Linked DNA regions of Homo sapiens. The protein of the gene in region 2 purifies or fractionates together with the protein of the main gene of each other region. This does not show direct contact. Each region holds a gene or a part of one and is shown on either strand. Other genes may lie near its edges.

What was found. The genes of interacting proteins can lie anywhere in the genome.
Region 1: the proteins of PIP5K1A (region 2) and NRXN3 purify together in Homo sapiens (affinity purification with mass spectrometry; 2 studies listed by BioGRID and IntAct, with this or other methods). This does not show direct contact.

Annotation. Positions count from the first base shown.
Region 1 is NC_000014.9:78,168,645-78,172,394, forward strand, and holds the start of NRXN3 (neurexin 3), read left to right. Parts: upstream 1-1,728; 5' UTR 1,729-2,030; intron 2,031-3,750. UniProt on the Homo sapiens protein: Neuronal cell surface protein that may be involved in cell recognition and cell adhesion. May mediate intracellular signaling. Functions as part of a trans-synaptic complex by binding to cerebellins and postsynaptic GRID1.
Region 2 is NC_000001.11:151,201,459-151,205,208, forward strand, and holds part of PIP5K1A (phosphatidylinositol 4-phosphate 5-kinase type-1 alpha), read left to right. Parts: intron 1-2,347; exon of another isoform or gene 2,348-3,750. UniProt on the Homo sapiens protein: Catalyzes the phosphorylation of phosphatidylinositol 4-phosphate (PtdIns(4)P/PI4P) to form phosphatidylinositol 4,5-bisphosphate (PtdIns(4,5)P2/PIP2), a lipid second messenger that regulates several cellular processes such as signal transduction, vesicle trafficking, actin cytoskeleton dynamics, cell adhesion, and cell motility.

The sequences.
Region 1 (3,750 bases), on a different chromosome or scaffold from region 2:
GCCAGGGCAGTTCAGGTCTAGAGTAAATAGGTGGGAGGTCAGATGTCATATAAAATTAATCCATGAAGGCATGTTCGTTTGTGTTCCTAAAACTACTGGATACCGTGGAGGTGTTGAAGGCTGGAGACCCGAAGACACATAAGAAAATGAGATTGTGATCTGAAAGGCAAAATAGACTGAAAAGTAGGCTAGTAATGATGGAAGTGCATATGTCCGTCTAGTCCCAGCCCAGATGCCACTTTAGTCCACCAAGCTTGCCTTGATATCCCCCACCTCCAAATCACAATTAATCACTTGCTTATCGACAATCCCATAGAGCTTCCTTTACATTGCTCTCATGATTATTTTCCCTTTGCTTTATAGAAACACATTTCTGTCCTCCTCCAATGCTTAGTGGAGTCCTTGGGGTTCAGACCTTGATAGATTCATTTTGTTTCTCATGAGCATGATGCCGGGTACATGTGCTATTAAAGTTTGCTGGGTCAGGAAAGTGCTAGGATGCTGCAAGAACATCCAGTAAAGGGCAGAAATATAAGAACTACCATCCTTGGCTGGAGGCAATAGAGTACTGTGGCTAACAGGCAGGCTCTGGAGTGGGATAGACTTGAGTTCAAATTCATTCTTAGCAGCTTCCAGCTGTGTAACCTTGGGCACCCTCTCTAAAGCTTCAACTTTTAAGACTGTGGAATGGATCTCAACTGTCAAATAGCACAAACCTCACTGGACTGAATGAGATGACCCACGTAGTGGCATATGGTAAGTGCTCAACAGCTATTAGTGGATTGGTGCTGGTCCAAGGGAGGACATGCCAGTGCAGCCCTTAAAAAGGGAGCTGGAGAAGAAAGGAGTTTGGGGCTGCATTTTCACATAAGGTGCCAGGGCCTGATGCTGAGCAAAACCTTTGTATTGGGTGCCACCGACTGTCATCTCTTGTTTAGGTTTGACTGGGGAAACGTTTCCACAGACATGAACTAGTTTGTCAAGGCTGGCAAGGGATTTTCAAGGGTTTAGGGGTGCAGTCTAGGCTCAGAGCTCAGAGTGCAAGCCACAAAAGAGAGCCATCTTCCTGAGTCACCAAAACACTTGATTCGGGCCTCTGACCCTTAGCTGGCAGCCCCTTAGGATAGGATGGGCTGTGCCTGGGTCTGTCTTTGCTGCTAGGGGCTCTGAGAGAGGAAGCCCCATTTGTCACTTTCATTTCTATGTCCCCAGCCCCTTGCAGTATGCTTCATCCTAAGCAGGCATTCAAAGTGCTTGTTGAAGGAATAGATTTGTGTCCTAGTTACAGCCCTGACTTCCACTAGATGCTCAAAGATTGCCCTGATTTTGCAAGGAAGAGCAACTACTCAGGGAAACTGAGGCACACTTGTAGGTTAGAGTCCCTCAGTCTGCAAGGAGACACACACATCCTCAGCAGTGGGGAAGTGGTTTGGTTACTGAAGCTGTAAATAAGAATTTTGTCTTTATATTAATTCCTACTCTGATTCTAGGGAAGAACTCTCCTCTCAGGCTGGAGTAAGGGGAGAACTGAGCTCAGACACTGCCTCTTAGTTGTGGGGGCTGCAAACTGCCCCTCCCTCATGATATCTTCTCAGCTGTTTGCAAAACAGTCAGGGAGGAGGTGAAGCCCTGAGCCAGGCGGCCTGTCTGTCTCTTTAAATGCTGGGGTCTGTGTGGGAGAGGGAGGGGCCGGCTCTGGAGTGCGTGAAATTCCTGGGCTCCTCCAGCAGTCTCAGGCTCAGCGCTCAGCCCTACACATCGCCTCTTGCATGCAACTCACAGAGAGGGAGAGGCAACCTGTCCTCCCCTCTCTCAGCCTCGGCATCTCCAGCCACCAAGGACCTGCTTTTCGCACCTCCAACAACCCCTCCCTTCTACCCTGCCACTCCCTCCCAGAGAGAAAGGAAAAGGAGAGAGAAAGATTCTGGAATTTGAACCTACCCAAAGAGGAAACATACCCAGCAAACTCAGTTGATTAAACATCAAACAGACATACAGACAGATCCCAAATCTTCTGTTCAACTGGAAAGGTAAGGTTTGCGGGGAAAGGAAGGCAGTCAGGGCATGAAACAACTCAAGGTTCTTGTCCGTTCTGGGAAGAGGTTGCTCCTGAGAGGGTAGAAGTTTTCAGTTGGGAGCAACCAACCTAGATTTTCTTTTTTGAATACTGTATCCATGAGCCTTGGCTGACTGTGGAAATGGCTTTTCAACTGCCTTTCTTTTCCTTCAGTTTCTCCTGGAAGTTGGGTCCTTTTCCTCCAGATGTTGGAAAAGTCAGAGAATGTTTTAGATTTTTATCTTCTTCTTCTTTTTTTTTTTTTTTTTTTGAGTCTTTCTCCTATTTGCTTGAATTGTTAGTCTGAAATGATGTGTGCTCATCACTTCATTTTGGGCAGATACTTTTTTTTTGACATTTTGTAGTCACTTCCCCCCTCATTTATTCATTTATTTATTTGGGCTGGTTAAAATGAGAAACAGAAAGGACACTCTGAGGATCACAAGAAAACAAAATTGAATTGAGACAGGGATTTCCCTAGCTGTTGAGGAATTGACGTGTATGTGAGTGTGTGTGTGCTTTTTTTTTTTTTTTTTGAGGGGGTGTGAGGAGGTGGTCCTAGAGTCTAAAAATTCAGGTTGGACTCCTGTCTTGTGAAGGTGGGCATACTTGGAGAAGGTGAAAAGGGAGTGTGTGTGTGAGTGTGTGTGTGTGTGTGTGCGCGGGTGTGTGCTCCTGTTTGGATCGGTTACAAGGGAATCTTCCTCCACTGCCTTCCATTTGTTTATATTAATGATTTAGTAGCAGGCTTGCCTGAAAACTTCCACTCTGTGTAAGCACTGTGGGTTTTGCAAGCTCTCAGTGACCTTAAAGCCTGGTTCGATGTATTGTTTTTTCCAGGCATTGTGCTGTACCCAGAGTTTCAGCTCTTTCCCTCTCTCTTTTTTAACCACAAAACTTAACTGCTTTAGAAACATCATCCTGATGACAAGGAAAAAAATGTGTCCCCCCACCCCCCATCCCTTCTTAGGCCAGTGATGTAATACCAACCTAAGGGCTCGGCTGCTTTGCAGGTGACTTACCCTGTGATTACTTGTTAAAAAAAAATAAAATTTTCCCTTCCTCCATTAAATGTCTGCCTCTTTTAATTTGGATGTAGAAATATCATCATGCAATGAGAACATCATATTTTTGCTAACCATTATTGGGGTTTAGGTAAAGTAGGATTGCTCTTCTCTGATCTTTATTGTTAATACTTTTTTTTTTAATGCAAAGGTCAGAGATCATTGAGAGCTAGCTTAGGATGGAGCAAGATAGAGTCAGGGCAAATAAAAGAGCTGGTAGGACAAGAGCTGTCTTCTCCCCGCTTCCTTCGGTTCCCGCTTTGGGGAGATAGTTTTTCTTTTACCACTACAAGCCACCCCAACATTCTTCTTTCTTCCTCTCCGCTGGGTCCTGTGGATGGCCCTGGGAGGGAGAGGGGGCACTCCTTGTCACACCTGGAGGATGGTGTAATTTTGGGGGTCAGATGACCGTTTGCCTTTGTGATGAAGGTTCCAGTGGAAATTTGAACTCCCAGCACGCTGCGTGACTTGGTACCCAGGATAGTCTATCTGGGGGCACCTGGAGGTTAGTCTGGGGAGGCTGGAGAACTGGCTCTTTATTAATTTGCCGTTCTGGGTAGAGCCTTCCTTCATCGTTCAAGGGCTTCTGCATCGCCTTTCAAGTTAAAATGGTCCCGCTGGTTATGATGG
Region 2 (3,750 bases):
CCTGACTCAGTCTCCCAAGTAGCTGGGAATACAGGCATGTGCCATCATGCCTGGCTATTTTATTTTTTTGTGTTTTTAGTAGTGATGGGGTTTCATCATGTCAGCCAGACTAGTCTTGAACTCCTGACCTCAAGTAATCCGCCCACTTCGGCCTCCAAAAATGCTGGGATTACAGGCATATCGCAAGGTCAGGAGTTCGAGACCAGCCTGGCCAACATGGTGAAACCCCATCTCTACTAAAAAATACAAAAAAATTAGCCAGGCATGTTGGCGCAGGCCTGTAATCCCAGCTACTTAGGAGGCTGAGTCAGGAGAATTGCTTGAACCCGGGAGGCAGAGGTTGCAGTGAGCCGAGATCACACCACTGCACTCCAGTCTGGGTGACAGAGCAAGACTCTGTCTCAAAACAAAAAAAAGGGGGCAAAAAGTGGCTAAATTTCAAGCTCTTGATGGACTATGGAAAGATTATAATGGCCTCCACCAAATCCAAACATGGTAATTGCTCCAATAGCAAAAGTAGTTAAACATCTCTTAGAGCTTATGGTTTGCTTTACTCTGTGTATTTCACTTGTCAACAGTGTAAAAGCTGACAGCTTAATGGTGAAACTATCTTTAATATTGGCAGGGAACAAACTCTCCTAAATAACCTCTCCTTCCCAATTTAAATGCCAGAAGATTGGGAGTGCCTAGAAGTTGTGAGTGGCTTATCAAAAACTGTCAATATGTCCTTGGCTATGACATTTTTGTTTTATATCCATTTTCAGCATTGTCAGAGAACATTGTCCTTTAGGATTTCAGAGTTTCACCAAAACTTAAGTGGAGTTCAGCTAAACAGCTAAGAACAGTAAATGGTTTTAGGGTGGTTGACACGCACACTTCTTGAATTTCTACAGGGCCAGCCTTCTAGCCTTTAACAATTCAGGAAATCATAAACCATCACTTGTTCCTGCCAACTTCCTAATTCCTCTGGTACCATGCAGACAAAGAAACACTCTCTTCCAATCGCAAATAAAATCTTTTTTCTCTTTTTTTAGGTGGACTCTTGCTCTTGTCACCCAGGCTGGAGTGCAGTGGGGTGATCTTGGCTCATTGCAGCCTCAGCCTCCCGGGTTCAAGCGAGTTGCCTGCTCAGCCTCCCAAGTAACAGATTACAGGCACCTGCCACCACATCTGACTAATTTTTGTATTTTAGTAGAGACAGGGTTTCACCATGTTGGCCAGGCTGGTCTCAAACTCCTGACCTCAGGTGATCCACCCATCTCGGGCTCCCATAGTGCTGGGATTACAGGCGTGAGCCACCATGCCCTGCCAGTAAAGTCTTTTTTTTTTTTTGAGAGGGAGTCTCTCTCTGTCGCCCAGGCTGGAGTGCGGTGGAGCAATCTTGGCTCACTGCAGCCTCAGCCTCTAGAGTTCAAGCGATTCTCCTGCTTCAGCTTCCCAAGTAACTGAGATTACAGGCACCTGCCACGTCTGGCTAATTTTTGTATTTTAGTAGAGATCAGATTTCACCATGTTAGTCAGGCTGGTCTCAAACTCCTGACCTCAGGTGATCCTCTCGCCTCAGCCTTGCAAAGTGCTGAGGTACATACAGGCTTTAGCCGCCGCCGCTGGCCTTACTTTATGCCCTTTTTACCACCATGAGGAGAGTAAAGAATTTCTGTCTTGGAGGCTTGATTTGAAGTTAGTGGTTGGGTTAGAAGGGATAGGATACTAAGGTGTACACTGCTCCTATGAAATAAGAGTTGTGGAGTAAAATCATGTGTGACTTCCTCAAGGAAAAGCACTTGAGGCTGGGTACAATGGCTCACACCTATATTCTCAGCACTTTGGGAGGCCAAGGCAGGCGGATCACCTGAGGTCAGGAGTTTGAGACCAGCCTGGCCAACATGGTGAAACCCTGTCTCTGCTAAAAATACAAAAATTAGCCGGGTGTGGTGGCAGGCACCTGTAATCCCAGCTACTCAGGAGGCTGAGGCAGGAGAATTGCTTGAACCCGGGGGACAGAGGTTGCAATGAGTCAAGATCACACCATTGCATTCCAGCCTGGGGGACAAGAGTGAAACTCCATCTCAAAAAAAAAAAAAAGGCCAGGAGCAGTAGCTCACGCCTGTAATCCCAGCACTTTGGGAGGCCGAGGTGGGCGGATCACAAGCTCAAGAGATGGAGACCATCCTAACCAACGTGGTGAAACCCCGTCTCTACTAAAAATACAAAAATTAGCTAGTCATGGTGGCACACTCCTGTAGTCCCAGCTACTCGGAAGGCTGAGGCAGGAGAATTGCTGGAACCCAGGAGGCGCGGGTTGCAGTGAGCTGAGATCACGCCACTGTACTCCATCCTGGAGACAGAGTGAGACTCTGTCTCAAAAAAAAAAAAAAGAAAAAAGAAAAGCACTTAAACCCTAGATAATCATGAGCTGTGTAGTTCCTTTTGCTTCAGACTAGAACATTTTTAAAATGGTCATCGCTCACCTATATGATTTTATCATGTGCACAAATGATTTAGACATAACTTTACAGCTGCTTACCTGACTTTTTCTCCCCCTTAACGGCTCAGGGAGATCCAGAGGATACAGTATTGGAGCATTTTTGCTTGGGACTTTTATAGTAGGGACAGCTTCATCAGTCTGTGATTCTGATTGCTTTGTTCTTCCCAGCAGAGCCCTACCTGTAACCTGCAGTAATCTGTTAACTCCAGTAGTAGGGATTATTGTTGATATATATATATATTTTTTTGAGATGGAGTTTCGCTCTTGTTGCCCTGGTTGGAGTGCAATGGCGCGATCTCGGCTCACTGTAACCTCTGCCTCTGGGGTTTGAGTGATTCTCCTGCCTCTGCCTCCTGAGTAGGTGGGATTACAGGCACCCGCCAACACGCCCGGCTAATTTTTGTATTTTTAGTAGAGACGGGGTTTCGCCATGTTGGCCAGGCTAGTCTCAAACTCCTGATCTCAGGTGATCTGCCCACTTCAGCCTCCCAAAGTGCTGGTATTACAGGCGTGAGCCGCCACGCCCGGCCTGTGGATGTTTTTTTGATCTGTGTTCTGTTGTGTACAGTGTAAGCCATTTGTAGGCTGATTTCTTTCCTAGTTCTTCCTCTTAGTGAAAAGTAAAGCAGTTTAGATCATGTTGAATGATAAACTGAAATTTAGAAATGCAAACATAGAATACAATGTCAGAATATCACCAGGTGCCATTTTGGTTGATATTTTATAAATAGGGAGATATTTTTCTGTTTACTCTCCATAGGGATTTTGACACTTTCCACCCACCCCTTTTTCCTTTTGTCACCTTGGTATATTCTGCCAGAAAACTGACATCAGAATGTCATTGCTTCTGATCGATTTATTTCTGCCATGACACTCAAGCCCATTGTCAGTTATAATTAACTAGTCTAATAGGTATCCAGTTTCTGATATTAATTGATAATGTGTACTTACACGTTAGCGTTGAATATCAAAATAGTACGTTTTGCTTATTAATGTCTGTGGGCTTTTTTAGGTTAATTTAAAACTCTTCTGATTAATACCTTTGCTCAAATATGTGCTACCTAATAGCTATTAAATATTTTATTAGCCTGTTTTTCTTGGATAATAAAGTGGAAACTATAGCCTGTGAAGTGAACAACAGAGATAATACCAGGCCAGCTAGCAAACTGGGGAGAGGGAAGGTGGTAATTTTATCCTTTAAATTGTTCTCTCCTAGAATGTTATTTATTATTTTTTTGAGACAGAGTCTTGCTCTGTCGCCC